Linked DNA regions of Homo sapiens. The protein of the gene in region 4 interacts with the protein of the main gene of each other region in a biochemical or structural test. Each region holds a gene or a part of one and is shown on either strand. Other genes may lie near its edges. The genes, in order: LIG3, HUS1, XRCC1 and NEIL1.

Evidence for each region.
Region 1: the proteins of NEIL1 (region 4) and LIG3 form a complex in vitro, tested with the Homo sapiens proteins (one study listed by BioGRID).
Region 2: the proteins of NEIL1 (region 4) and HUS1 form a complex in vitro, tested with the Homo sapiens proteins (one study listed by BioGRID).
Region 3: the proteins of NEIL1 (region 4) and XRCC1 form a complex in vitro, tested with the Homo sapiens proteins (one study listed by BioGRID).

Annotation. Positions count from the first base shown.
Region 1 is NC_000017.11:35,004,512-35,010,561, reverse strand, and holds the end of LIG3 (DNA ligase 3 isoform alpha precursor), read right to left. Parts: 3' UTR 3,490-6,050; coding exon of another isoform or gene 3,148-3,489; 3' UTR 819-3,147; downstream 1-818. UniProt on the Homo sapiens protein: Isoform 3 functions as a heterodimer with DNA-repair protein XRCC1 in the nucleus and can correct defective DNA strand-break repair and sister chromatid exchange following treatment with ionizing radiation and alkylating agents.
Region 2 is NC_000007.14:47,962,552-47,969,697, forward strand, and holds the end of HUS1 (checkpoint protein HUS1), read right to left. Parts: intron 6,768-7,146; coding exon 6,668-6,767; intron 5,375-6,667; coding exon 5,255-5,374; intron 2,888-5,254; coding exon 2,805-2,887; 3' UTR 737-2,804; downstream 1-736. UniProt on the Homo sapiens protein: Component of the 9-1-1 cell-cycle checkpoint response complex that plays a major role in DNA repair. The 9-1-1 complex is recruited to DNA lesion upon damage by the RAD17-replication factor C (RFC) clamp loader complex.
Region 3 is NC_000019.10:43,572,214-43,579,739, forward strand, and holds the start of XRCC1 (DNA repair protein XRCC1), read right to left. Parts: upstream 3,315-7,526; 5' UTR 3,246-3,314; coding exon 3,195-3,245; intron 2,790-3,194; coding exon 2,697-2,789; intron 1-2,696. Other genes in the region: PINLYP (phospholipase A2 inhibitor and Ly6/PLAUR domain-containing protein), read left to right, coding at 4,907-5,048, 6,377-6,493. UniProt on the Homo sapiens protein: Scaffold protein involved in DNA single-strand break repair by mediating the assembly of DNA break repair protein complexes. Negatively regulates ADP-ribosyltransferase activity of PARP1 during base-excision repair in order to prevent excessive PARP1 activity.
Region 4 is NC_000015.10:75,341,879-75,350,077, reverse strand, and holds the start of NEIL1 (endonuclease 8-like 1), read right to left. Parts: upstream 3,040-8,199; 5' UTR 2,605-3,039; intron 2,460-2,604; exon of another isoform or gene 2,288-2,459; coding exon of another isoform or gene 2,052-2,287; intron 1,658-2,051; exon of another isoform or gene 1,432-1,657; intron 1,195-1,431; coding exon of another isoform or gene 1,173-1,194; coding exon 739-1,172; intron 1-738. UniProt on the Homo sapiens protein: Involved in base excision repair of DNA damaged by oxidation or by mutagenic agents. Acts as a DNA glycosylase that recognizes and removes damaged bases.

The DNA.
Region 1 (6,050 bases), on a different chromosome or scaffold from region 4:
CAGGCTGGTCTTGAACTCTTGACCTTATGATCCGCCCGCCTCAGCTTCCCAAAGTGCTGGGATTACAGGCGTGAGCCACCACACCCAGCAGGAGAAACCATTTTCTAGGCTCTTTAGGAAGGACCATGCAATGAGTAGGTGATGTATTTGAGCCCTCACAGTCTTTACACCCCTAGAGGAGCTGGAGGACTTAAGAGTTTGCTGCAGAAGCGTGGCCAAGCACAAAACACATGATCAGGAAAGCAGAGTGTTTTCCCATTACCAATGGATGAACTATGCAAACCCTAAACGCCTTGGCAGACACCTCCCACCCCTTACCCCTCCCATGCAGCTGAAAAATCTGAGACTAGAACCAATCATGACTCTGGATGGCAGAGGGAAACCTCTAAAGGGACTTATTACATTGGTACAGACATATTTATGCTTTCTTCCATCACCAACCACTAAACCCCTTTGGAGGAATGAAATAACTGCATAAACTAGTCAACTGAACACTGGGCCACTTACCTCAATGTTATACAAAGTCCTGGATGATTTGATTCTGAACCACAGCCTTTGCAGGAGTTGGGGGAATCAGATTTGCTCATGAAGACATCCCTTTCCACTTTTGTCATGGGCAGTAAATACTATAGTTTACAATGCCTACCAATTAGCAAAGGATCATTCATTCAGCTACTCAGTTCCTCTGTAAAACAGGTCTATGTATGTGCAATTCAGCTAAGATCTAGCAGTAACTTAAGGGCAGAAGCTGGCTCTCTACTTACAACCTGCTTTCTCTGCTGAAGCCTTACCTCCTCTTCAGTTTCCCTCCTAGACACAAATCGAAAATAATATACTGATAGCTGGTTAGTAACCTCAGTAAGAATTAAAACTGAGGTTGTTTACTCATTTTGCCTTTAAATCTTTTATCCCCTTTTGGTGAAGGTTTCCCTTTAGGAAAAAAGGTGTCAAACAACCCTGATTTTTTTTTTTTTTGCATCATTTTTATTACACCAAATTAAAGTTGGGAGTTCCAAGATCCCATTCCAGTTAATATTTAACCAAGGTCTAAAATTTGATTTTTTTTAAATCTTTGAATCCTCCCTTCTGCCCCTCATGGATCCTTGGTTTTAATGATATGGAAACATCTAATTCTTAGAATTATTCCGTAGCTTTTGCTGATTACTCTGAGATTTCAGTTAAGACTTGTTTCAAAAGACAGATAGCTGACTGGTTCATAATACATTGGAATAGTTGGATCCAAACTAATAAGAATAAGCTGTACAGGAACTAGTGCTCAATATACATTGTATAAATTTGTGGAAATCTCTTGGATGTGAATTGTTACTTCAAGTGGCTTTTATTAAGATTTTCTCAGACTTACTTGGAGGTTAAAGCAAACCCAAATGTGTATTATTTTGTTACAGAGCTCTGCTTTATAATTTTGTAATAAAGTTTCAATACAGACACCTGTCCTGTCTGGTGCGAGGATGTTAGAGGTTGATAGGACTGACAAAAGAGCCTGACAGTGGTTCATGCTATAATTTCCACACTTTAGGAGGCCAAGGTGGGAAGACTGCTTGAGCTCAGGAGTTTGAGACCAACCTGGGCAATGTAGTGAGACCTTGTCTCTACTTAAAAAAACAAACAAGGGCCGGGTGCGGTGGCTCACGCCTGTAATCCCAGCACTTTGGGAGGCTGAGGCGGGCAGATCACGAGGTCAGGAGATCGAGACCACCCTGGCTAACACGGTGAAACCCCGTCTCTACTAAAAATACAAAAAATTAGCCAGGCGTGGTGGCGGGTGCCTGTAGTCCCAGCTACTCGGGAGGCTGAGGCAGGAGAATGGTGTGAACCCGGGAGGCGGAGCTTGCAGTGAGCCAAGATTGCGCCACTGCAGTCCGGCCTGGGCGAAAGAGCGAGACTCTGTCTCAAAAAACAAAACAAAAAAAAACACAAACAAAAAACCCAAAAAAACCAAAAAATTAGCCGTGCATGGTGGTGCATGTGGGTAGTCCCAACTACTTGGAAGGCTGAGGTGGGAGGATCACTTGAGCCAGGAGATTGAAGCTGCAGTGAGCTCTGATCGCCACCGCACTCCAGCCAGGGTGACAGAGTGAGACCCTGTATTAAAAAAAAAAAAAAATTGACAACTGATAAACCACAAGCTAATCCTGGGATGTGCACATGGCCTGGGATTAGCCTGTGGTTGGGCCAAGTGACCTTGGTCAAGATGCTCAGTGTTGTTGTAACTAACTAACTTGCTCAAGACCACAAATGTAATATATGGAAGAGGCCATGGAACAACCTAGAAGAGAATGAGAGCTGGGTAGGTAAAGGATGAATCCCAAGACCAATTGGGTTGAAGCACCAAGTGAGTTCAGATATTTACACTGATCTAGAAGAGATGGGCCTTAAAGAACTGAAATCTGAGGACAGTTAGTATGCCCAGTTAGGTCTTCAGGTTACCCTGGGAGATACATGGTACCTTTTGGATACAGCTGTAGTACAGCTGGACTATGGCTCAGAAAAGGTTGGCCCAGGCTGGGCGCCATGGCTCACGCCTGTAATCCCAGCACTTTGGGAGGCTGAGGTGCGTGGATGACTCGAGGCCAGGAGTTTGAGACCAGTCTGGACAACATGGCGAAACGTGGTCTCTACTAAAAATACAAAAACTTAGCTGCGAGTGATGGTGTGTGCCTGTTTGTTAAGTCTTAGCCACTTGGGAGGCTGAGGCATGAGAATTGCTTGTGAACCCGGGAAGCAGAGGTTGCAGTGAGCTGAGATTGCACCACTGCACTCCAGCCTGAATGACAGAGCAAGAGTCTGTTTAAAAAAAAAAAAAAGGTTGGCCCAGCCTCGTGACAGACTGCTGTGTGTGCGCAGGCTTGTACAAACCTCCCTGACCAGGCGCCCAAGGAGCAGGGAAAAGACTACTGAGAATGCAGCCCCTGGGAGAACAAGATTATGTGTCCATCTGCTGTGACTGAGAAGAGAAAGGAATCTTGCCAAAAGGGCATAAAGGATCGAGGATGAGCCACAACACTTTGCTCACATTGCCCTAGGGAGCTGACCTGTTCAGCACCCAGTGATGACCTCTGCTTGATGCCAGCCAGCAGCATGTAGAGGTTCAGAAGAGGGAGGCCTCCAGCATTCTGCTGGAGAGATTTATGATGATGATGTTGAGGGCTGCATTGAAATACATGAAAGAAATACATGAAAGGATACAAAATAGTATATACAGTCAGATCTCAGCAGCAAAGACTGGAAGAAAATACATAAAAAACCACTGACATTGAAATGGCAATAACACACACTAAGGCAGAGAAGGGACAAGATGATCACCTGCAGCCAGCAGAGGCCCTTTCCTGTGAGTGTGCACTCTGGGTGTAAGCAACCAATAAGGGCAAGTGGGGCTGGGTCCAGGTTGGAGAGGACAGTGCCTTTGGCAGGATCCTGAGGAGACAGCCTTGTTCTGCTGCCCTGTCCGGTTGTTTGTTTGGCCTGAGGCTGAAGAGAGAAATGGAAATCTATGTAGGTCAGTACTCAAAGGAGGAGCAGCTTTTTGTCTCCATAGAGGATGGAATAAAAAGTATCTTATTCCTAATACTGAAGCAAGGCTGAATGGTGCCTATTCAAAAACACCAAATGTCCTGGGCTAGAGTCAGGAAAGTAAACCCCTCCCCCGTGCTGTCCCTACTCCCCCAACATACACATTTTAAACAGTAGGTGGAAGCCAAAGTCAATCAGATCAAAGTTGGGGGGGGGCGGTGGGGTGGCCAGGGGGCGCAGTGGTCCTTGATCTTATAGGTCCAGAGCCTGTTAATTTGTTCATAAGGTGAGAACTGACCCTCAAGAGCTGGAAGGATTGGGACATGGCAGCCAGTTTACAACCATATGGTGTCCTGATGAGCCTGCACTCAGAGTGGAGTGTTGGCTGGAACATGCACACCTGCAACTGAGGGTTCTAAAGTCATAGGTTAGGCCCTTCTCCCGGGTAGGGTCTGGACATGCACACCAGGAGTGACGTTCCCAACTCTAGATAACTATGTGCTAGGCTCTGGGCTAAGTGCTTTACATAATGTTGCTCAGGACAACAGGACAACCCTATGATTTAGGTGCACCCATTCTACTTGGAGGGATTGAGGCTTAGATGTTAACGTAACTTGCCTAAGGTTAGAGCCATTAAGTTTCAGGAGTCTGATCTGAACTCCGTCTACACCTGCACTGTCCAGTGTGGTAGTCACTAGTGACATGTGACCATTTGAAGTTGAATTAAAATAAGAACTTCAGTTCCTTAGTTGTGCCAGCTTCATTTCAATTGCTCAGCAGCTGTCTGTGGCTAGTTTGGTTGGATACTGCAGATTTATGGATATTTCCACTGCTGCAAAAAGTTCTATTGAATAGCACTTGTCTACACTAAATTGTCTCTCTTCCTTTTGTTCTTCAAATAAATCAGCCTCAGGTAGCACAGGAGCTGTTCTTTGTAAGCAGGTTGTATGGATCTGTTCTCAGGTGTGGATTTTTATTTTTTTCCCTGCAGATATGGAGTATATTTTCTTTAAGAAATTAAAAACTAAGAAGAAAATGCCACTCAACATTGTTGGTATTATCAATAGGTCAGCAGGAAAAAAAAAAATACTGTGATAAACTTGTCTCTCTGATACCAAGAAGAAATTCTAGTCCGAGCTTCAATATGCTTCCTGTTTTTTTCGCTAGGTATTTCTTTTACTGCTGCTCTTCATTCTTTCCCACATTTCATATTGGAGGATTGGTACAGCCTTTAGAACTTCATTGACAGGAGCAAATCCAGTATCCACTGATTTCTTCTTAAAGGCGCTCTAACCCATCAGATAGCCCGGCAGTTTCATTCACATGAATACTCCAGCCATGAAAAAACTCAGTAGGACACAGACGAATCCAATGAATAGAAGAAAAAAAATCGATTGAGTTTTGGGATATTTGGTGCATTCGACTGGTCCAGCATTATGAAACCTAAACCTCCCATTGTAAACAGGAAGCTGGATGCAAATCCTTCCATAATATACTGTCCATTTACTTTGTAGGCCAAGAAAGCTACTGGCCTCTGATGCCCACGTTCATCAGCCAATACTTGGGGGTTCAACAATATCATATAATTATTCCTCCAGTCATGAGGAAGTAAGACACCACCACCAGAGCATACACAGTCATGGCTGATGGCATGTGCAGCCAGGGTGGCTTCTTCAACTTCAGGTTGGAACACTCGAGCACTAAGAATGGGATATGGTACAAAGTCTCCATGTTGGTGGCAACAAGGGCTGTTCTTGGCCTCAAGCCCCATGTGGATTTTTATTCTTAAAGAACAGTCTTGTTTCCAGGTTTTGGGGATGCAGATCTTCCTGGAGCCCTCTATCCCTCCAGAGGAGTGGCCCAAATAACCTCCCCTTTCTTCATAAAGGCCCCATTTTCCTACCTGACCCTAGTCCCCTCCCTTCAAACTGGGGATCCTCACCATGTAATAGGAGAACACAGAGAAGAAAGTAAAAAAATTCATTTTGTTTTCTTTCACATGAGGTTTGTTCCTGGCAAAGCGTGTCAGGCTGAATACAAGTTCCGCTAAACAGAAGCATTTCCGAGGGCAGTCCTTTAAATACAACTTTAAAATGAGCCTGGAAGTACAAAGGAACAGGCAAGGATGGGAGAGAAGGCTTTGTGGACAGAGCTGCCATAGCCCAGCCTTTACTCCTTAATCTCTAGGGAAATTATTGGGGGTGTAGGTGGGGAAAGGACAAAGATAACTGCAAGATATTTTATTTATAAAAAGGGTAACTAAGCTGCTTTTCAAAGAAAACAAAAAGATGGCAAACCCAGCACCCAGCTCTGAAAGATCTATTTAAACCAGCAAGACAAACTGACTTCAGCTGTGGCACCCACAGCAACTAATTCCTGGTCCAGAAGAGACAGTGGAGAACTGGTGGGTTTGGGAGAAGCAAGCCCATTCCCCCTATACTGTGTCTATCTGCCTCCAGCCTGAGTCCAGTCCAGTAGTATGGTAAAGGAGAGTATGGCCTGAGGGAGAGGGAAGACAG
Region 2 (7,146 bases), on a different chromosome or scaffold from region 4:
TCTACAAAACAATATAAAAATTAGCTGGGCGCAGTGGCACACACCTGTAGTTCCAGCTACTTGGGAGGGTGAGGCAGGAGGACTGCTTAAGCCCAGGAGTTTGAGACTGCAGTGAGCCATGACTGTACCACTGCACTCCAGCATGGGGGACAAAGCCAGACCCTGTCTCCCTCAGGAAAAAAAAAAAAAAAGCTAAAAGCCAGAATAGGCAAATATATAGAGATAGATATTAGACAAGTAATTGCCTGGGGCTAGGAGGTATATGCTGCGGGAGAGCAGAACAAGGGAGAAGAGAAAAGATGTGCGTACCAAAAGGATGTGAGGCCCTGAGCCCAGGGCAGGTAAGGCATGGGACTGCCTTATTTTACCCTGGCATTTAGGACAGTACTCCACAAACCACAAATTCTTATAAATCACAGCCAGTGAAAGTATGCTCAAAATCCAGAAAGCTCTTTTAAAAAAGGTCTCAACACTTTGAGATGTTAGTCTTGAAATAAGTTAATGTTTCAAATTATATTCATTCCTTTAAATGGATTAAATTGCTATTTCTTGACCCGGCAAAATTTTACCTTGGTAGATCATTCAATAAAGCAGCACTGTGCCCTTCTCTAAGTCTGTGGTGTTGTACCGGCTCCTGCCATCATTTTTCACAGCTCTTTGAGGAGCAAAGAGGTGGAGGACTTGGTAGACACTAAGTAGCAAGTTGTGATAAGAATCAGAAACAGACACCAACTTCTTGAATCTCAACTAAGGTTTCTTTAGCCACATTCTACACAAAGATAAAATCTTAAGCCATTCATTAAAATCTTCAAAATTATATGTATTTGATAATAAACATCACATAGAGCAAATGGTTAAGTCACTAACACATTCTCTTTAACAGCAATTTCAGTTTTATAAAACTACTTTCAGATATTGTTTCATTTTGTATCATGATTTTTAAGTTTTCTCACTGCAGCTGGAATTAATTTCGTTACAATGAGAGGAGGAAGGGTTTAAAAATTAAAACGGTGTCTTCTAATTTTAAAATGTTAATTTAACAAAATATTCCATCCTATTTCAACATTATTAAACATAGGCCAGGCGTGGTGGCTCACGCCTGTAATCCCAGCACTTTGAGAGGCCAAGGTGGGTGATCACGAGGTCGAGATCGAGACCATCCTGGCCAACACAGTGAAACTCCGTCTCTACTAAAAATACAAAAATTAGCCGGGCGTGGTGGCATGCGCCTGTAGTCCCAGCTACTCGGGAGGCTGAGGCAGGAGAATCGCTTGAACTTGGGAAGTGGAGGCTGCAGTAAGCCAAGATCGCGCCACTAGCACTCCAGACTGGCGACAGAGTGAGACTCCGTCTCAAAAAAAAAAACCAAAAAACAAACAAAAAACCATTACTAAACATCAAAAGAATCATTCAAATACACTGGTTTTATCAAAAAACATGAAAAAGCCAAAATATAAATTTTCATGTTAGCTAGTCTTCCAATTTCATTTTATCCTAAGCAACTTAGGTCTCAGTTTTGTAATGTGACATTAATATAATGTTTATGGATGGGTGTGATGGCTGATGCCTGTAATCCCAGCACTTTGGGAGGCCCAGGTGGGCGGGTGGCTTGAGCCCAGGAGTTCAAGACCAGCCTGGACAACACAGTGAGACCCTGTCTCTATGAAAAATTGAAAATTAGCTGGGTGTGGTGGTGCACACCAGTAGTCCCAGCTAGTCAGGAAGCTGAGGTGGGAGGATGCCTTGAGCCAAGGAGGTCAATGCGGTGAGCCATGATTGTGGCACTGCACTCCAGTCTGGGTGACAGAATGAGACCGTCTCAAACAAAACAAAACAAGAAAACAAAAGATAATGTTTATCATGTCCACCTCCACAGGACAATGAGATGTAATTATAATAGGAAATATGATGGGTATGTTTCAGGGAGAATGAGCACATCTACCAGTACTGAATCAGCTTTGATGTTCAGAAACATCAAAGAAATATGGTCTCATCACTTAACACAGATGATACCTTAGAAGTTTCGTTTGTTTCTACTCTAAATAGAAGGGTCTTCTTTCCAGAACGACAGATCCGATACACTGTGGAAGAAAGAAATATAAGGAATTACAACCTAAACCCAAAACTGGCCCCAGGAAGAAACTAGTTGGAATGGCAGAAGGAGCTCCCAGCTAAGAGCTGTGTTGGCTGGGCCAGCTCTCTAGGCATCAAGAGGGGAGTGGACTCAGGTGGGCTTGAGTCCTCAGCAAGAGAGAGACTCCAAATGCTGCAGCTGTGACACCCCACAGTGCTCTGAGTAACCAAGGCAGTGGCGGCGGGGTGACAGAGGCTGTTCTTTCTGTCACTGGGCTCCAAGGGGCAGGAGCAGCGGGGTGAACACACTGAAATGCAAGACTGACTGTGCGCTACAGGCCGTGCTGAGCTAGAGCCTCTGCCTGGAGGGAAAGTACCAAGCTCCCAGGCAACAGCTTTACGAATTCTGGCTACTACACCAAGTCTAAATACATGACGATTTTCACAACATCAATGAGAAATTGTTCTTTAAAGTCTGAATAAATAAATTCTAGCTTTTCTTTTCAGTGTCTTAAAAACAAAGCAAAACAGACATGAGCAACATGAAGTGATATGTTTATCCAACTGTGTGTTGTTGAATCAACTTTTAGTTAAAATGTTAGAGAGGGACAAATAAGTACAGTGTGTCGATGTGCGGTGCTGTGAGGGCACAGACCAGTGATCAGAACACAACACCTGCGGCCTCTCCCATCCTGACAAAGTCTCTGCATGCCAACTCCAGCGACAGGGTGCTAGGACAGCGCAGGGATGAAATACTGAAGGGACACGTCTTCATGAAGCAGATCAAAATGCACCATCTTGTTATTCACAATATCTGGGAAGAGAAAAGCCATGATTTTAGAGACCTAGTGCAGCACACACATTTTGATCTCTACTTTTTCAGAACAGCCTTCCCAGCCTGCACCTCCTGTTTTAGGCATCTGTCTTCCCTGAGGCAGCTGCAGAGACCACAGTCTCTCACTCTCACTGCCACAGCTGAGGCTACATCACGGCCCCAGCACTGGCGGCTCCCTGTGCGAGGAGAGGAAAAGTGAAGCGGCCCAAGCCCTTGGCAAAACACCCAGCAGGCTGGCTTCCTGGCAAACCACATTCACCCACATGAGCATCCTTCTGCAGCGAAGAGCAGCTCCTCACCAGTGAGTGGAGGAACTGTGCTGAGAAGAGCCAAGAGCCAGGATCCCCCAACACCTGGGGCAGGCTGTGTCACACACTGCTACATGGGATGGATCCCTGCATCTCAACGGTCCTGCCAATCCCGTGAGGGCCATGGGTGATGGCTAAAATCCAAGGCATCAGGCATGCAACCAAGCAGGGAAGTAAAGAGCACATGAGGGTGGGCAGGAGCACACAGTGTGACAACCACCGAGAGCTCGGGGAGCTGCAGCACAGCAGCCGAGGAAAGCTCTCCAGCAGATATGAGTGAGTGACAAGAAACCATGTGTGAGCAGGCTGCAGAGAGGCCAATCCCAGGAGATGGGAGGTTGGGGAAAGGACCAGAAAGGACAAGCAGGAGACAAACATTCTTTAGGAGAGGTGGTGCAAGGGCACAGGAGAGGCAGAGACTGAGGGTGGCAGGACCTAGCTAGAGGAGGGGACAATTGAGCCGACACCTGAAGGAGACTAACAGAGACAGAAAAGGGGCTTTGGGAAGTTAAGAAGGTATGAGAAGTTCAACCCACGGTGTTTTAAAAAAAATTTTTGCTACATCACAATTTGCTGGTCTTCCTTTCTCTGCTACACGTGGAGACACCAAAGTGAATGTTGGGAAGACACTTGGCTTAGTCAACCACCTTTGATAAGAACTCTTCCATGTTCCTCAACAGCCTTGGATTCAGAAAGTCCCCAAAATACCAAGTTCAAAGACTGATGTTGTGCAGCGCAGGGGCCCCCCACACCCTGTGTTTCCACACTCTGCAGACAGGAGGGGTATTTCACTCTCTCACCATTCACACTGTGCTTGTCAGGACCAAGGGTCTGGGCATTGTACAGGAGCTTGGGAGAAGTGCAGCCATGAGGCCCAGCCCAAACTATGAATAAGGAGTCCCTTTACATGACCTTCAGGCGATCTCCATGCACATCGAGGTTCTCAGAAGCACCTTTAAGGACCCTGCACTGCCACACAGCTCCCACTATGCTCAGCCCTAGAAATATGACATCGTCCATGTCAAAGTTCCTTAAAATGCAGCACAGGTACCTCACCCCAAAACTCCCCATGATCTGGCCTAGTCTAGCTTCTCCATCTCTACCCTCAGAGCTGCTTCTCTGGCGATATCTCCTTCTGTGCCCATCACTCCAACTGTGTGACACCTTCCCCAATTCCCAAACACCCATTGCCCCTCCCATGGTCTCTTCTGATTCTCTTCATGTCTCTCATTCAAAAGGGCTGGTCCTTGACATTGCCACCTAGAATCTTCTGTTCCTTCTCTACAGCACACTGCAGATCTGAAGGGGATGAGGTGCAGTGTTGGCTCAACCTCCCTCTCAGCTCAGCCTGGGAGCTATGCTACAAAACGTGGAACTTCAAATCCAGGATGCAGTCGCTTTTAGGTTGCTGTGATTTCAGTAGTAAGGTGACAAAAATGCCTTGAAAAGCTCTTGGCAGGTAATGCCTTTCTCATGTGTGGTCAGTAGATGAAGAGTGCTGGAGCAGGTGTGTGACCTCACAAGATGGGGCCCAGCCAGAATCAAGAGGCAACTGTTAACAACCAGCAGCCAAGGGACAGATATGGGGCAGCGAATGCAGGCCAGCATAGCCACAGAAAGGAAACAAGACATCACAAGGGAAAACTTAAATCCAAGCCAAACCGTGTCTGGCACTCTGAGCAGGTCAAATTAGATGACCATGGAGAAGGTGGGATGATCTGCACCCATTCTCCCGATGGCATCTCCAGGTGTGCTGGCCAACTGAGGCAGCACACAACCCACCTACCAACCAGTGTGGCTGCAGGTTTCAGGCCCTAACAGAGTGCCCAGGGGTTGTTTCTCTGCTGCCACCTTAGGTACTTCTGAATCTAGGAAAATTTAAAAAACCCCACTGTTCTAGGAAGTTAAAGTCCACATAATTGAGCTTTTTTTTTTTTTTTTGGATTTATGAGACTATATGCAATCTGTTAGACTAGAGTTGACTGCAGTATTTAGAATATGAAAGAATATGAAAAACAAAACAGAGAAGCACACTCACTGCATAAGGCCTTTGTGGGATTTACTTGTTGTCCAGCAAGAAACTGTAGGAGCTTCCTAATATCTATGTGCACTTCAGCCATGTGTTCCACGTTTCTGTCCTCATGGGTGCTTTCAGAGGCTAAAATGATAGGAATGCATTTAAATACAACATCTTCCCACGTAACAGGAAACCTGGAGATACTCAATGCATTTTACTTAAATAAATGATTCACTTTAGCACTGATTTTAGCATCCTGAAGAAATATTGCAACTTGTAAATGTTGTCATTCATTAAGCATTAGGTCCTAACTATTTAAAATACTATGATAATTTCCAAGGCATCTTTATTTACAGGGGACTTGAAATATAACTCAATCTCCCTCTTCAGGTCAAAGAAAATTTTATTTATTTGTACTTACTATGTATTTTAAGAGTGAAAATATATACATTAACTAATACAAGGCCTGTCATTCTGGAGTGGAATTAAAAAAAAAAAGAAAACATCCTTTCTACCTCTGAGAAAGTACCAAAGATAAGTCCCACCTTATGTTTATTAAAAGAAACAAAATGAGTGACATCAGAATGAATCGCTTTACACAATATTATCAAAGGCATAACCGTATGGATTTCACTCTGCTGGAGCAGGATGCTCTTAACTAGAAAGTAAAAATTCCTTCCAACTCTATGCTAAAATCTGTGTTTATATTCAAGCAGACTCGTAGTAACTTAAATGTGACTAGGGCCGATTTTATTGGTTCTGGCACACTTATGTATCATAAAATGATTTTCTCATCATCCCCAGGTGTTTCTCCCCTGGTCCTTTACCTGCTTTCCTGCTCAGGCAGCCCCTGCTACTGTGCAGCTGCCACTTTCCAGCCATGATTCTAACCCCCTCTTGGCTTATAACTCACCAAACTGTCCAACCGTCCCCTCTCTCCCCACTTGCTGAACTGACTCTATCGTCCCTTATTACCTTGTATGAGATAAGAAATGTGATCAAGTGAAACAGTTTTGCATCTGCTACACTAATTTCATACATATGGAAGTAACTGAAGGAGGAGAATATAAGAACAAATGTATCTACCTTTCTGAATCCATGCCAGGTGAGAAATAGAAATCTTTAGGAGTAGGACAGGAATTGAATAGCTGGAAGGGATCTTGGAGGTTATGTAACTTGATCCGAATTCTACAGAGGATGGAGACCCTGCACAGATCTGTCAGCTACTTGGTGGCACAGCTTCTCCCCCTGGTGGCTAACTGCCCCACTACACCACAGGGATACATAGTCCAGTCTCAATTCCTTTGTTCTTCACCCAAGCATGAAACAAAGTCAACTGAATTTCAACCTTTTTACATGAAGAGACCTCAACAGGTAGGTTATCTGAAACAATTAACTTATCCAAAGCAAAATATAACCCACTAGAAAACTTACCTAATGGAGGATTTCCAAGATCTTTAAAATGAGTTGTAACACATACTAATTCAGTTTCTATTTTCAAATTCAATTCTCCATCTAGGTTTGCTTCAATAACCTGCAAATTGAGTATTTTACATAGTCTTAGAAAAGGAAGCCAAAAGGAAAAAAACTCCATGGGCAACAGCTTTCACACAACCAGATGACAAAGTACCCTACAAAACCTCAAAACACCTCAGAGCACACTGAGACCCCCGTGCTATCAGGGAAAGTGAGAAGATAAGGCCCAAGAGCCAAGAACTCAGAAATCTCCCAAAAATCTCAAAGGGGAAGTCCCCCTGCCTGCCTCCCGGAATGAAGAACTCAGTGAAGATGTGAAAACAGGTGGAACTCCGAGAGGACTTGCCAGGAGACTACAGCAGCACAAGGGCAGGGCTCTAGGGAGGGCTGGGTGGAGCTGATGAGAACTCCCTCACAGCAGGAGAGAGTCCTGCACT
Region 3 (7,526 bases), on a different chromosome or scaffold from region 4:
CCCTGGAGTCACTTGATCATAAGAGAGCCCAGTGGAATCATCACCCACTAAGTAATAAAAACACAAATCCCTCCCTCTACACAAACACCTACATGTTGACAGAGCACTTGTGCAGACATTATGTCACCGAATTTTCACAACTCCGGGCTTGGATGTCATTATTCCCAATGGACACATGAGAAAACAGGTTAGAGAAATGAAACAATTTTCTTGAGGTCACCGATTAAGAGGAAGAGCTGGGGGCTTGAATCTAGATCTCAAGACTAAAACTGTCAGCAATCTGTATCTATCACAGTTTAAAAGACTGAGGTCAGGTGCAGTGGCTCATGCCTGTAATCCCAACATTTTGGGAGGCCAAGGTGGGTGGATCACTTAAATTAGCATTTGGTGCTCATTTGCCTTGAACTCCTGAGGTCAGGAGTTCAAGACCAGCCTAGCCAACATGGCAAAACTCGGTCTCTATTATAAATACAAAAATTAGCCAGGCATGTAAATTCCAACTACTCAGAAGGCTGAGGCATGAGAATCATTTGAACCTGGGAAGTGGAGGCCATTAGTTGACAGGCACTAAACACTGACATCAATTGGGGTGGACCAGATGATGTTACAGTAACAAAGGAGTCCCTAATCTCAGTGGTTTAAAACAACCAAGTTGTATTAACTTACACTGTAATAATGCTGTGTAACAAATCATCCTAAAACTGAGATCTTTTCTTTTTTTTTTTTTTTTTTTTTTTGAGATACAGTCTCACTCTGTCTCACAGGCCGGAGTGCAGTGAAACCATCACAGTTCACTGCAGCTTCAACCTTATGGGCTCAATCAATCCTCCCCGCTCAGCCTCCCTGGTAGCTGGGACTACAGGCATACGCCACCAAGCCCAGCTATTTTTTATAATTTTTCGTAGAGATAGGGTTTCCCCATGTTACCCAGGCTGGTCTCAAACTCCTGGGTTCAAGCGATTCACCCACCTCGACCTCCCAACATGAAAACTGAGACTTATACCAACAAGCATTCTTATAAGAATTTGTGGGATGGCTGCTTTGGCTGCAGTTTGGGAGGATTCAGGTCTCTTCCATGAGATTCCACAGTTTTCTGGGATTAGCAGTAACCTGGCAAATGTTCTCATGGCATATTATGGGAGCACAAAAGCCAAGTGCATTTAAGGCCCTTGCTGAAGTTAGATGTGCTGAAATTCCATTAAGTAAATCATATGGTCAAACTCATCAATGGAGCAGGGAAATATACTCCCCCTCCAGTGGGAGGGAGAGGAGTGGATATTTGCTGAATGACTGCCCATTCACAAAAGGTTAATTTTTCCGTCACCCTAGCACTATCCACAGAGTGTTCTGCTCCTTATAGTCATAAAGCAGCCCCCAGGCCAGGAACAATGGTTCATGCCTGTCATCCGAGCACTTTGGGAGGCTGAAGCAGGAGGAACGCTTGAGCCCAGGAGTTTGAGACCAGCCTGGCAACATGGTGGAAACCCCATCTCTAAAAAAATACAAAAAAAACTAGCCAGGCATGGTGGTGCACACCTGCAGTCCCAGCTACTCAGGAGGCTGAGGTGGGAGGATCGCTTGAGCCCAGGAGGTAGAGGCTGCAGTGAGCCAAGCCAAGATCATGCCACTGCACTACAGCCTGGGAACAGAGTGAGACTCTGTCTCAACAGATAAATAAAAGATTGACTGTCAGGCAAATTGTATAACTTCTTTGGGCCTCAGTTTCCTCATCTGTAAAAGTGGGGATAACAGAGCCTGCCTCTTGGGGTTTTTTATGAGGACTCAATGAGCTAATCCATGTGAGTGAGGTGTGTAGAGCAGCGACTGACAGGTAACGTTGAATAATGCCAGCTCTCATTATTATTATTTTATTTTTTATATTTTGGGGGTCTCACTCTGGTGCCCAGGCTGGAGTGCAGTGGCACAATCTCAGCTCACTGCAGCCTCCATCTCCTGGGCTCAAGCAATTCTCTCACCTCAGACTCGCCAGTAGCTGGGATTGCAGGTGCACACCACCATACTCAGCTAATCTATAAAATTTTGGTAGAGATGACATCTTACTGTATTGCCCAGGCTGGTCTCAAACTCCTGGGCTCATGCAATACTCCAGCTTCGGCCTCCCAAAGTGATGGGATTACAGGTGTGAACCACCATACCTGGCTATTATTCTTTAAAAAAAATTATTTATTTTAATAAAAATAGAGACAGGGTCTTGATATGTTGCCCAGGCTGGTCTGGAACTCCTGAGCTCAAGCAATCCTCCCATCTCAGGCTCTGAAAGTGCTGGGTTTACAGGCATGAGCCACGGCATCCGGCCAGTTTCCCCTTCTTTAAAGTGGAGTTGATTGGCTTAGACGACCTTCCTGGACACCTTCCAGCCCTGAGCCCACTGGCTGCAGGAGGCAGAGTACGTGGCAATGATTCATTTTGTTCCAGCTGAGGAAACTGGAACCCAGAAAGTAGATGCCACCTGCCCAGGACCACACACTGATTCCTGTGGTCATCCTGGACTTAATCCTTGGGTCTCCTTTCCTCTCTGCTGAGGGGCACAGGGATTATGCTGCCCATTTTCCGAGTAAGGAAGCTGAGGCCCAGCAAAGAAAGTGACTAAACCCACTGCCAGTTGGCTCAGGAGCAGAATCTGGAACCCCGGACTCCAGACTCCTAGTGAGGAGGAGGTGGGGTGGCAGGATCACCTGTAGGACCACAGAGATGGTCTTCTCGCCTGCCTTGGCTGCCCGCCATTTTCGGTAAGTGTCTGCCTTGAGAAGATTTTCTGCACAGTGAGTCTGGAAACAACAGTGGGAGAGGAGAATTAGGGCACAGAGATGACAGCTAGGCCTCCAGCTCTCAGATGATTCCTTTGAGTCCTCCCAAGGCCTCTACGACCCCCAGATTTAAGCTCTCCCGTTAATCCCCCGACACTCTGCCTGGAGTTTCCCCTACAACACTTTCCCGTGGAAGTTCACCTATGGGCTCTCCAAGAAAGCTTCCCTATTCCTCCTTTTCTCTCCGGAAGTTCCCTAGACGCCGGAACGTCCCTAATTCAACATCTCTCCACAATTCACTTTTAGCCTCCTGGAAATCCCCCCATGACTCTCCTTAGACTTCCAAGAGAACCCCAAAAGCTCTTTTAAGAGCTATCCTCATTAATTCCCTCACGTCTTCCAACCTCCCCCATGCAGGTCCCTCACCGAGTCCTGGCTGCTGCAGGACACGACATGGCGGAGGCGGATCTCCGGCATGTCAACGTCGTGGGCTTCGCCTGGCCAGAAGGATGAGGTAGAGTATGGGGTCCGAGGGGCAGGGAGAGTGGGAGGGGGCGGGGTGCGCCCTGCGCTGGCTAAAGTGCGCAAGCGCGCGAGGCTCGGGCCTTTCAAACCCCGGCGCGCCGGCGCCGGCGTCGACACTGCGCAAGCCCAGTCGCGCCTCTCCAGAGCGGGAAGAGCGCTGCGTTCCTTAGCAACGAGCGTTTCCTCCAGCCCCGCCTCCCTCCGCCACACACAACCCCGCTCTAGCCTCGCCTCCCAATGACGTCCGAACCCTGCTTTCTGGGAGCCTAGCAACAGAAGCGACCTCCGGGATTGGTGTCTGGAAGAAATTCGCCTTTCTCATTGCACGATGGAGTTACCGCCCACACTGAAGCCGAGAAAGCAAATCTTTTTGCTGTATTATTATTTATTTTATTTTTTAAAAATTTTTTGTTGAGACAGGGTCTTGCTCTCTCACCCAGGATGGAGTGCAGTGGCACGATCTCGGCTTTCTGCAACCCCTGTCTCCTGGGGCCAAGGGATCCTCCCACTTCAGCCTCCTAAGTAGCTGGGATTACACGCACGCGCCACCACATTCGGCTAATTTTTGTATTTTTTGTGGAGACATGGGGTGAGAGGGCGGCGGGTCTTGCCATGTTGCCCAGACTGGTCTCGAACTCCTCAGCTCAAGCGATCCACCTGCCTCGGCCTCTCAAAGTGCTGGAACTACAGGCGTGAGCGACTGCGCTGGGCTAGGACAGCAAATCTGAGTGAATTTTCGTAGTTTCGTAGGGAACCTGGATTCTACGCAACAGGATCTCTTCAAATGGCTCAGGCGGCTGCACTCTTCTCTCTGTCCCCTTGCCACACACACACACACGCACATATACATACATACGCGCGCGCGCACGCGCGAAAAAAATTAGCAGATCTCTTTCAGCCTTATGCCTGAGGCCAAAAGAGAAGGGTTCTGCGTCCTAAATATAACACAAAGCATGTGCCCAACCCCCACCACACACACACACACACACCCCTATCCTGGAGTTCTTCCACAAAAGCCTCAGTTTCCCAATATGTGGACTGTGGGCATCTGTCTTTTACTACGCCCGCCTATGACTGCCGACAGACATCCCTCTGTTCATTCGGTGCCTTGGAGACCCAAGGGTGCAGCCCTGGGTGGGGTCGCAGCTGGAGACAGCCCAAACACACAAGGAGTGTGAGCCGAGCACATGAAGAGAGGGGAAGGGAGACAAGGCACCCCGCACCCGCAGGACCAGCCTGGACATGCTGGGTGCTCCAAGGTGGGGCCCTACCCACACTGGGTGCTTCCTTGGGAGGAGAGGGGAAGAGAGAGAAGGAGAGGGAATCCCAGTTCTTGCAGCCACTGGGAATCAAGAGGCCCAACTCCGTCTTGGTCTTCAAGCAAACAAACAAACAACAATGGGCCGTGGGAAGGTGAGAAAACAGGGTGGTGACTTTCTGGGTTCTAATAGAAGAGGGGGATGGAAGCCCAGACTCCTGGGGTCTCCATGGAGGTGGGGGGCTGGGCACAAGATGCCCAGGTCACTTTTGGATTCTGGTTCTGCCTTCCCAACCCGGAGGCCACAGAGGACTGCCCTGGGTTCTGACCTCAGCTATTTCTCCCCGTAGGGTGAATGTGGGTCCAGACCCACCCCTCCTCAGCTTCCTATAAAAGCTGGGGACCAGGTACTGCTGATACACACACCATGAGGCTCTCCAGGAGACCAGAGACCTTTCTGCTGGCCTTTGTGTTGCTCTGCACCCTCCTGGGTCTTGGTAAGTGACAAGGGACCTGAACTGTCTCTGGGACCTCAGGAAGAGAGAGGTCCCAGATTGAGAGAGAGAGAGATATAGAGAGAGAAAGAGCCTTCAGCAAGTCCTCAAGGTGAACGGGGAGGCATTCTGGAAATTCAGATTCATGGAAGAGGCCAAGGGTAAAGGAAGAGAAAGCCTGGGGGTCCCAGAGAAGAAAAGCTCCTGTGATTGGATCCCTGAGAGAGGGGCTTGGTGGGCTCTGAATCCTCCATCCTCCAGGAAGGATCCCAAACACATCTCAATTCTAGGAAATCAGATGAGAGCATGGCTGGAAAGGGAAATCTTTAAAAATATAATTAAAAAAAAAAAAAGAGGGAGAAGGCCAGGTGCGGTGGCTCATGCCTGTAACCCCAGCACTTTAAGAGGCCGAGGCAGGTGGATCACTTGAGGTCAGGAGTTCAAGACCAGCCTGGCCAACATGGTGAAACCCCGTCTTTACTAAAAATACAAAAAAAGTTAGCTGAGCTTGGTGGTGGGCGCCTGTAATCCTAGCTACTTGGGAGGCTGAGGTGAGAGGATTGCTTGAAACTGGGAGGCAAAGGTTGCAGTGAGCCAAGATCGTGCCACTGCACTCCCCAGCCTGGGTGACAGAGCAAAACTCCATCTCAAAAAAAATACATTAATATCATATGATATATTTTTTTAAAAGAGGTAGAGAGATTTCCTTTCTCCTTAGACTAAGAAGTTCAGGCCCCAGCCCCCTCCTCCCCTGCACACAGGAGTCCAAGTAAGCCTCACTTTCCCCAGGACCCAGGTTTCTGGGCCCCTAGCTGTCCCCTCTCTCAGAACCAAGAAGTTCAAGTCCTCTGCCCTCCTGGTCCTCACTCTCCCTCCTTGACCTGGGATGCAGACCCTAGCCTCAGGGCCCCCTGCCTGAGCTCCTGCTGTCTACAAGACCTACATGGCACCTTCAAGGAGGAGAATCCCACATTCAAGAACCAGCTGGACCTGAAGTTTCACAAAAGTCCATGGAAACCTCCATCACGACCCCTCCCTGCCCCTGAGCTTTCTCAGCGGACCCTGGCATCCAAAATCCCCAGCCATGTAATTAGGCAAACAGGCTTCATGGTGGAGTCGCTTCCCGCCCCTGGAAGCAGCTTTGCTGGCATCACCACTGCTTCTTCGTCCAACTCTGGACAGTTCCTTGGGCAGTGGTCAACATCCCGCCCATGAAAAACCAGGGAGCTGCTGGTCCCTCCTCTCTCAGGACACAAAAGTCCTAAGTCAAAGTCGTGGTCCGAAGACCACACCACCCATGACTACAGCCTCGCCCTCTGTCTACACTGCAGGGTGCCCACTACACTGCGAAATATGTACGGCGGCGGGGAGCAGGTGCCATGGCCAAATGAAGACCTGCAGCAGTGACAAGGACACATGTGTGCTCCTGGTCGGGAAGGCTACTTCAAGTAAGAGGATGTGGCCTGGGACCTGGTGGGGAGGTGGGGTGTACCTTCAGGGTGGAAGAGACTACCATGCTGAGGGGGGATCATCATGGTTCTCAAGACGGGAGCGTGGGAAGAAATCAGTGGAGAGCAGGAAAGAGGGAAAGACCATCATGAGATGGAGGGAACAGAAATAAGTGGTGTGATAGAAATCATTATTGTCACAGAATTCTGAAAATGACACTGTCCTAAAGAGAAGGAAAATGTGGGAGGGGTGAGAGTTAATAGACTTTCTTAGGCAGAAGAGGGGTAAGGAAAGACACTGTGGGGGGCAGAGAAATAGTGAGAGGGGAAGAATCTAACTGGCAGGAGGTGGAAATGGTGGGGAGTGGATAGAGAAGGAAGAGGCTGGGCTGGGGTGGGAAAGTGTAAGTGTAATCAGGGAAGAGGTCATTCCTGACCGAGGGAGGAGAGATGATGGTGGAGTGTTGGAGTGGTGGAAGAGACAGAAAAGGGATCACCCCAAACAGGAGATGGATGATAACCTTGAAGTATGGAGCAAATCATTTTTTTTCTTTTTTGAGACAGAGTCTCGCTCTGTCACCCAGGATGGAGTGCAATGGCGCGATCTCTGCTCACTGCAACCTCCACTTCCCAGGTTCAAGCGATTCTCCTGCCTCAGCCTCCCGAGTAGCTGGAATTACAGGTGCGTGCCACCACACCTGGCTAATTTTTGTATTTTTTAGTAGAGACGGGGTTTCGCCATGTTGGCCAGGCTGGTCTCTAACTCCTGACCTCAAGTGATTCTCCCGCCTCGACCTCCCAAAGTGCTGGGATTACAGGCATGAGCTACCGTGCCTGGCTGAGCAAATCATCGTAAAGAGGAGAAGCAGAGACAGGGAGGGGGAGATGTGGATGAGTAAAATGAAAGGGAGGCCGGGCACGGTGGTTCACGCCTGTAATCCCAGCACTTTGGGAGGTTGAGGTGGGAGGATCGTTTGAGCCCAGGAGTTTGAGACCAGCCTGGACAACAAAAAGAGATCCATCTCTACAGAAA
Region 4 (8,199 bases):
CCACAAAGCCCAAGGCGGAAGCCATGTCATGAGATAGTCCCCTCCCCATCCCCTTGAAACAATTCCGCTCAGCCTCACTTACCATATTAAAGCCCCTCCACCTTCTTAGCCTCCTGGGAGCCCTGAGAGGTGGTGTGGGATTGTGGGTGGGAGCCCCAGCTTCTCTGACACTAACTGGCCACATGTCCTCAGGGCAGTACCTACCCATCCTCCTCTTGGCTCTCCTCTCTCCTCCCCCATCAGTTATTATTATCATTATTTTTTGAGACAGAGTCGTGCTCTGTTGCCCAGACTGGAGTGGAATGGTGCTGTCTCAGCTCACTGCAACCCCGGCCTCACCGGCTCAAGCGCTTTTCCTGCCTCAGCCTCCCAAGTAGCTGGGGTTACAGGCATGTGCCACCATGCCCGGCTAATTTTTGTATTTTCAGTAGAGACAGGGTTTCACCATACTGGCCAGGCTGGTCTCGAACTCCTGACCTCGTGATCTGCCCGCCTCGGCTTCCCAAAGTGCTGGGATTTACAGACTTGAGCCACCACACCCGGCCCCCAATTAGTTTTGAGTTTCCATGCCCACTGGCTCAGGGAGCTGACCCAGGACAGGTATACTGTCTTGATCTGCAGATGAGAGAACTGAGGCCCAGAAGGGGCAGGGACTCGCCCCTTGTTGGCCAAGAAGGCACTAAGAGAGTCAGGTGTGGAGCCCGCGACTATGTTCATCACACCTGGTGCTGGCCCTACCTGAACTGCTGGTACTCCTGCAAGACACAGGGCCCGCGGCCCGGCTGCCACTTTCCCCCAAGGTCCCAGCGGCCGAACCGGCGGATGTCCACGAAACATAGGGCGAGCCGGGGGCCAGGCGGGGCCGTGTAAAAGCGCAGGTGGGCATGGCGTGGCAGCTCCTCGCGGGGCACCAGCTGAAAAGAGCCGGACATGCCGAAGCGGAAGACCAGGGCCAGTGGCTCCTGTTGGGGCTGGGCCCCAGGCAGAGGGCTCAGTATCAGGCGCAGCTCCTTGCCGCGGGCTGAAGCTGAGATGCGGTAGGCACTGCTCTCAAAGGGCACCTCAGGGTTGCGGCTGACAGAGGACTTCTCCACGCAGCCGCCGAACACCAGCGCCCTGCAGGCCTCATTCACAAACTGGCTGGCCAGGTGCAGCTCGGGGCCCTCAGGCATCCTGAGGGAGGGTGGCAGAGTCCTGTTGGGGAGGAAGGCAGCGGGTTGAGCCCGGTGTGGACTTTGTGAGGTAGCGGCTGTCAGCCCCATTTTTAGAGGAGAACTCGGAGGGTCAGATGGGCATGTGGCCAGCTGCGGCTGGCAGGAAAGTGCGGGCCTGGCCACGGCCCTCAATCCCCTACCCGGACAGGTGCCTGGAAAGCCCAGGGCGCTGGGAGCTGGGGCTGCAGAGGGAGCAGGACTCTGCCTTGCTGCTAACCGCTTCCTTCCATGGGCTTCCACCGCGTTTAGACGAAAGTCCCAATCCTTGCGGGGCCGCGGCTGCAGCCTTACTTCTTCCCGGCTCCCCTCACTCACGGATCTCATCTCCGCCTTGGCCCCTGCTGTCCCTCTGTCCCAGACACTTGAGGGAGACTTCCTGACCCCCCATCTGAGGGAGCACCCCCTCCGCACACGCTGTCTCTTTCTCCAGGCTCTCCCACCATCTGAAAGGGTCTTAGGATCGCGTGGCCGCCCCTCCCTGCGCCCCCCTCCCCCCACACTTAGGACCCGCCTGGATCTGGCCGCTCACCACCGAGGGAAAGAGCGAAGCTCGGCCTGGCGCGGGGGAGCGGCGGGAGCGGCCGAATCGGCCGCTTGGCCGCAGCGAGAACCGGGCCTGCCCCACGGACCGGACATCCCCGCGGCCGCCCCCGGGTCAGGGCAGGGGCCAGGACGAGGCGGGCGGGCTGCCGCCATGCGCTGGAGCCGCTCCCCATGGCTCCGCAGGAGGACGGCGGGCACCAGGAAGGGCTCCCCGAGCTCCTGCCCCGGGCCTGGGGGAGGGAAAGGGCCCGCGGCAGCGCCTGGTCCCTGGGGTGGGGGGTATCGACTCCTCACCTCCGCCCTCCCTGCTTTGCCACTTGCCTCTGTCCCCGGGCGGTTCGGAATCGGAGGCGAAGGTGTGCCTTAAGTGGAAGGGGGCACTTAGCGACGGCAGACGCCCGTACCTTGCCCCCTCCACACCTGGGAGCCGCCCCTGGCCTGGCACCCACAGGGCTCGTTTTGCGGGAGAACGTGAGGCTCCAAATCCTAGTTTTGGGGAGGAGCGGCGCTCTCGGGCCCGTCCTCCCCATGCCCCCGCTGCGACCCTGTCCTCGGTTAATCCTGACTCCCCTCCTCCTCAGGGCCCCCCAAAGCTCATCTTCTCCTTAGCCCTACAGCGCACCCCCCACAACCCGATCCTGCACGCCCCCTCCCCGGGAACCCGCACTCCGTTCCGCTCGTCGCCACTGCAGCCACTAAAGGGTTAACGCCAGAACGGGCGGTGCCCGGGAGCGCGCTGGGAGCCGCTGGGAGGTGTAGTCCCTCAGGGAAGCGGTCGCGATTCTTCGGGGTGGGGTCCCCGAGCTTGGGGGGTTCCAGGCTTTGGGGCAGGCTTCGGGGCAGTTACCTGGCTGGGAGGTGGCGGAAGAACCTGACTTCCCACTGCCTGGCGCCGGCGAGATGCGGGGGCAGGTCTGAGGCCCCGGGTCGCCGCTGTCTCTGCGGTTGGGGGAAGTCACCCAGCTAGCGTGGGACAGGGTCGGCACCCCCAGCAGGAAACAGCAGCGACGAGCCAGAGCGGAGTCGCCTGCAGCTGCGCGCAGGACGTGCACAGGTGCGCGGTACGCACAGGCCCTAGGGACCCGGTGGGGATCTTAAGCACCAACGAACAGTCAGACCTAACTCATAAACAAACATCATCACGGCCTGCCCTGTCAGAAGCGCAGCCAAGCAACAACAACAACAAAAAAAGGCGAGGAGGTAGACCCACTTGAGATGGTTCTGTTGCGGAGAGTCTCTGAAATCAGAAAGCGCCAGTCCGCAAAAACGAGGAAACCCGACGTGTCCGGCGGAAGGAACCGCCAGTACAAAGGCCCTGAGGCGAGAAAGAGATTGGTCACTGAAAGAACTCAAAGAAGTCCTGTGTGGCTGGAGTATAGCTGCGGGTTAGTGCTGGCAGGTGAAGACAGAGAAGCAAACCCAGGTCAGGTCCGGTTGGGCCTCGGGAGGGCCTCCGTGTGGAGTCTGCACTTCATTCTAAGTGTATACCTAACCCATCGCCACGATTTCCCCTCCTTCACACTACCCTGCTACGTCTCCTTATTAGGCGTAATAAAATTATGTGGCTTTGTAAGAAATTGGTTTTTAGAGATGCATGTTAAAGTATTGGGTATGAAATGTCATGATTTGTCTAATTTACTTTAAAATACTTCTGCCATAATAAATGAATAGAATTAACAACTTGATATTAGTTGACAATATCTAATAATATCTAAGTTATTAGAAATTAGTTAACAGTAACTTCTTTTTTTGAGACAGGGTCTCACTGTGTCACCCAGGCTGGAGTGCGGTGGTGAAATCTCGGCTCACTGCAGCCTCCACTTCCCGGGTTCAAGTGATTCTCCTGCCTCAGCCTCCCGAGTAACTGGGATTACAGGCGTGTGCCACATGCCTGGCTAATTTTCATATTTTTAGTAGAGATGAGGTTTCGCCTTGTTGGCCAGGCTGGTCTTGAACTCCTGACCTCAAGTAATCTGCCCGCCTCGGCCTCCCAAAGTGCTGGGATTACAGAAGTGAGCCACCATGCCCAGCCAACAGTAACTTCTTAATATCATCTAATAGCTAGTCCACATCCAGATTTCCCCAATTGTCCCAAATATATATATATATACACATATAGACAGGGTCTCACTCTGTCCCCCAGGCTACAATCATGGGTCATTGCAGCCTCCGACCTCCCGGGCTCAAGTGATCCTCAGCCTCAGCCTCCCAAGTAGCTGGGACTACAGGCACACACCACCACGCCTGGCTAATTCATGTTTTGTAAGGATGTGGTCTCACTATGTTGCCTGGGCCAGCCTCAAACTCCTGGGCTCAAGCCATCCCCCGACCTCGGGGTCCCAAAGTGTTGGGATTACAGGCGTGAGCCACCGCGCCTGGCTGGATTATATCTTTTTAATAATTTTAAATCTAGATGAAACCACCTTCCCTCTCCCACCCACTTCATCCCCTTCTTTTATCTTCATGATACCTTTCTGAAGAGTCTCAGCCAGTTGTTGTTTGAGATAGATGCTGCATCACATTCTCAATTTGTCTGAATGTATCCTCAGGGTGTCACTGATATTGTCACAGAGATTGGTCCTCTATCTGTGGTTCATCCTGCATGCTGGGAATTAGATCTAAAGGCTTGATTATATAAATATTCAGGGATACTTCCTAGGTGCTGCTCTGTACTTCGTTGTTTTTTGTTTTGTTTTGTTTTATTTGAGATGGAGTCTTGCTCTGTCACCCAGACTGGAGTGCAGTGGCACGATCTTGGCTCACTGCAACCTCTGCCTCCCAGGTTCAAGTGATTCTCTTGCCTCAGCCTCCTGAGTAGCTGAGACTACAGGCATATGCCACCACTCCCAGCTGATTTTTGTATTTTTAGTAGAGACGGGGTTTCACCATGTTGGCCAGGCTGGTCTCAAACTCCTGACCTCAGGTGATCTGCCTGCCTCGGCCTCCCAAAGTGCTGGGATTACAGGGATAAGCCACTACGCCTGGCCACTGCTCTGTACTTTGAATTGCATCATATCAGGAGGCACCCAATATCTCATTGTCCCACTTTATTGGGAGCTGAAACTGATCAAGACAGGGGCTGTGGCAGCCAGACCTCTGCATTAGAAAACATATGGTTCATACCTTGTGAACACCAAATAATCTATGGAGTAATTTCTTTGTTGTTCTCTTGTTTAAATAAAGGTATAATTTACATATAGTAAAATTTACCCCTTTCAGACTGCAATATTTGACAAACACATAGTCATGTAACTGCCACCCCAATGAAGAGATAACACACATTGAAGCATTATTCCCAAGATGTGGAAACAACCAACCGATACATGGATTTTTTAAAATGTGATATATAATAGGCTGGGCATGGTGGCTCATGCATGTAATCTCAGCCCTTTGGGAGGCCAAGACAGGAGGACTGCTTGAGCCCACGAGTTCAAGACCAGCCTGGTCAACATAGGGAGATTCCATCTCTATATAAGAAAAGAATTAGCATAGTGGTATGCATCTGTAGTCCCAGCTACTCCAGAGGCTGTGGTTGGAGGACTGCTTGAGCCTGGGAGTCAGAGGCTACAGTGAACTGTGATCATGCTGCTGCACTCTAGCCTGGATGACAGAGTGAAACCTTATCCCCATCCCTGCCCCCCTAAAAAAAATGTGGTATATGATGGAATATTATTCAGCCTTTAAAAAAAGGAAATACTGCCACATGCAACAACATGGGTAACCTCGAAGACATTGCACTAAATAAGTTGGTCACAGAAGGACAAATACTTAGGCTGGACACAGTGGCTCACGCTTATAATCCCGACACTTTGGGAGGCCAAGGCGGGTGGATCACGAGGTCAGGAGATCGAGATCATCCTGGCCAACATGGTGAAACCCCGTCTCTAATAAAAATACAAAAATTATCCAGGTGTGGTGGCGGGCACCTGTAGTCCCAGCTACTTGGGAGGCTGAGGCAGGAGAATTGCTTGCACCCAGGAGGCAGAGGTTGCAGTGAGCTGAGATCGTGCCACTGCACTCCAGCCTGGCAACAGAGCGAGACTCTGTCTCATAAAACAAACAAGCAAAAAAACCCCAGAAAGACAAATACTTCATGGTTCCACTTATATCAGGTACCTAAACAGTTAAACACACAGAAGCAGCAAGTAGAATGGTGGTTGCCAGGAGCTGCCGGGAAGGAGGAAATGGGTAGTTGCTATTCAATGAATATAAAGTTTTGGGTTTTTGGCCAGGCGCAGTGGCTGATGCCTGAAATCCCAACACTATGGGAGGCCGAGGGGGGAGTGAATCACTTGAGGCCAGGAGTTCAAGACCAGCCTGGCCAACATGGTGAAACCCCGTCTTTACTAAAAATACGAAAGTTCGCTTTGAGATCCTGTCTCAAAAGAAAATAAAGTTTTAGGTTTTTATTGTTGTTTTTGAGACAGGTCTCACTCTGTTGCCCAGGCTAGAGAACGATGGTGCAATCTCGGCTCACTGCAGCCTCGACCTCCCAGTAGCTGGGATTACAGGTGGGGGCCACCATGCCTAATTTTTTGTATTTTTAGTAGAGACAGGGTTTTACCACGTTGCCAAGACTAGTCTCAAACTCCTGACCTCAAGCGATCCACCTGCCTTGGCCTCCCAGAGTATTGGGATTACAGGCGTGAGCCACCGTGTCCAGCCTCAAAGTGATTTTCTAATTGTCATTCTTAATATATTTGATAGAATCCATCTGTCAAGTATAGCTTTACCTCATTGACCAGGGCTATTTGGTTATCCTGACTAAAAAGACAGGATAACCTCTTTTTTATTTTTTTTGAGACAGGATCTCACTCTGTCACTCAAGGCTGGAGTGCAGTGGTATGATCATGGTTCACTGCAACCTCGAACTCCTGAGCTCAGGTGATCCTCCAACGTCAGCCTCCTGAGTAGCTGGGACAATGGTGCATACCACCACACCTAATTTTTGTATTTTTTTGTAGAGATGGGGTTTTGCCATGTTGCCAAGGATAGTCTCCTTGTGATTTTTTTATCACTTTGTTTATTCCCAGTTTTCATTTTTGCTTCTTCTTGCCCAACTGTGGCTGGTGGAGCATTTTTTAGAATACCAGTTTGACTTATCTATAGTTTTATTTTTAATTGACAAATAATAATTGTATAAATTTATGGAGTACAGTGTGATGTTTTGTTACATGCATATATTGTGGAATGATCAAATCGGCTGGGCACGGTGGCTCATGCCTGTAATCCCAGCACTGTGGGAGGCCGAGGCAGACGGATCACCTGAGGTCAGAAGTTTAAAACCAGCCTGGCCAACATAGTGAAACCCAGTCTCTACAAAAAATACAAAAAATTAGCCAGGGGTGGTGGTGCATGCCTGTAGTCCCAGCTACTACAGAGGCTGAGGCAGGAGAATCACTTGAACTCGGGAGGCGGAGGTTGCAGTGAGCCAAGATCACGCCACTGCACTCCAGCCTAGGCAACAGAGTGAGACTCTGTCTCAAGAAAACAAAAAACACAAAAAAAGATCAAATCAGGCTAATTAGGATATCCATTACCTCAAATATTTATTTCTTTGTGATGAGAACATTTAAAACCCTCTTTTAGCTATTTTGAAGTATACATCATTATTAACTGGTCACCACGCTGGGCAATAAATCACCAGAATGTACTCCTCCTAACTGGAACTTTGTACCTTTTGACCGGTGTCTCCCCTTTTCCCCACAACCCACCCTCTCTCTCCTCCAGCCTCTGCTAACCACCATTCTACTGTCGACTTCTATGAATTTAACTTTTTTTTTTTGAGACAGGGTCTCACTGTCACCCAGGCTGGAGTGCAGGGGCACTATCATGGTTCACTGCAGCCTTGACCGCCCTGGCTCAAGCAATCCTCCCACCTCAACCTCCCAAGTGCTGGAACCACAGGCATGTGCCACTGCACCCGGCTAATTTTTTTACTTTTTGTAGAGACAGGTTTGCCATGTTGCCCAGCCTGGTCTCGAACTCCTGGGCTTAAGTGATCCTCCCACCTTGGCTTCCCAAAGTGCTGGGATTACAGGCGTGAGCCACTGCCCCAGGCCCTTTTTTCAACTCCAGGCATAAGTGAGGTGACGAGGTATTTGTCTCTCTGTGCCTGGCTTATTTCACTTAGCATCATGTCGTCTAGGTTCATCCAAGTCACAAATGACAGAACCTTCTGCTTTTTAAGGGCTGAAAAATATTCCAATGTGTGTATATATACATTTTTTTTTTTTTTTTTTTTTTTTTTTTGAGACAGGGTCTCAGCTCTGTTATCCAGGCTGGAGTGCAGAGGTATGATCACAGCTCACTGCAGCCTCAAACCCCTGGGCTCAAGCGATTGATCCTCCTGCCTCAGCCTTCTGAGTAGCTGAGACTATAAGCACGCACCACCATGATCGGCTAATTTTTTATTTTTTTGGAGAAACTGAGTCTCCCTGTG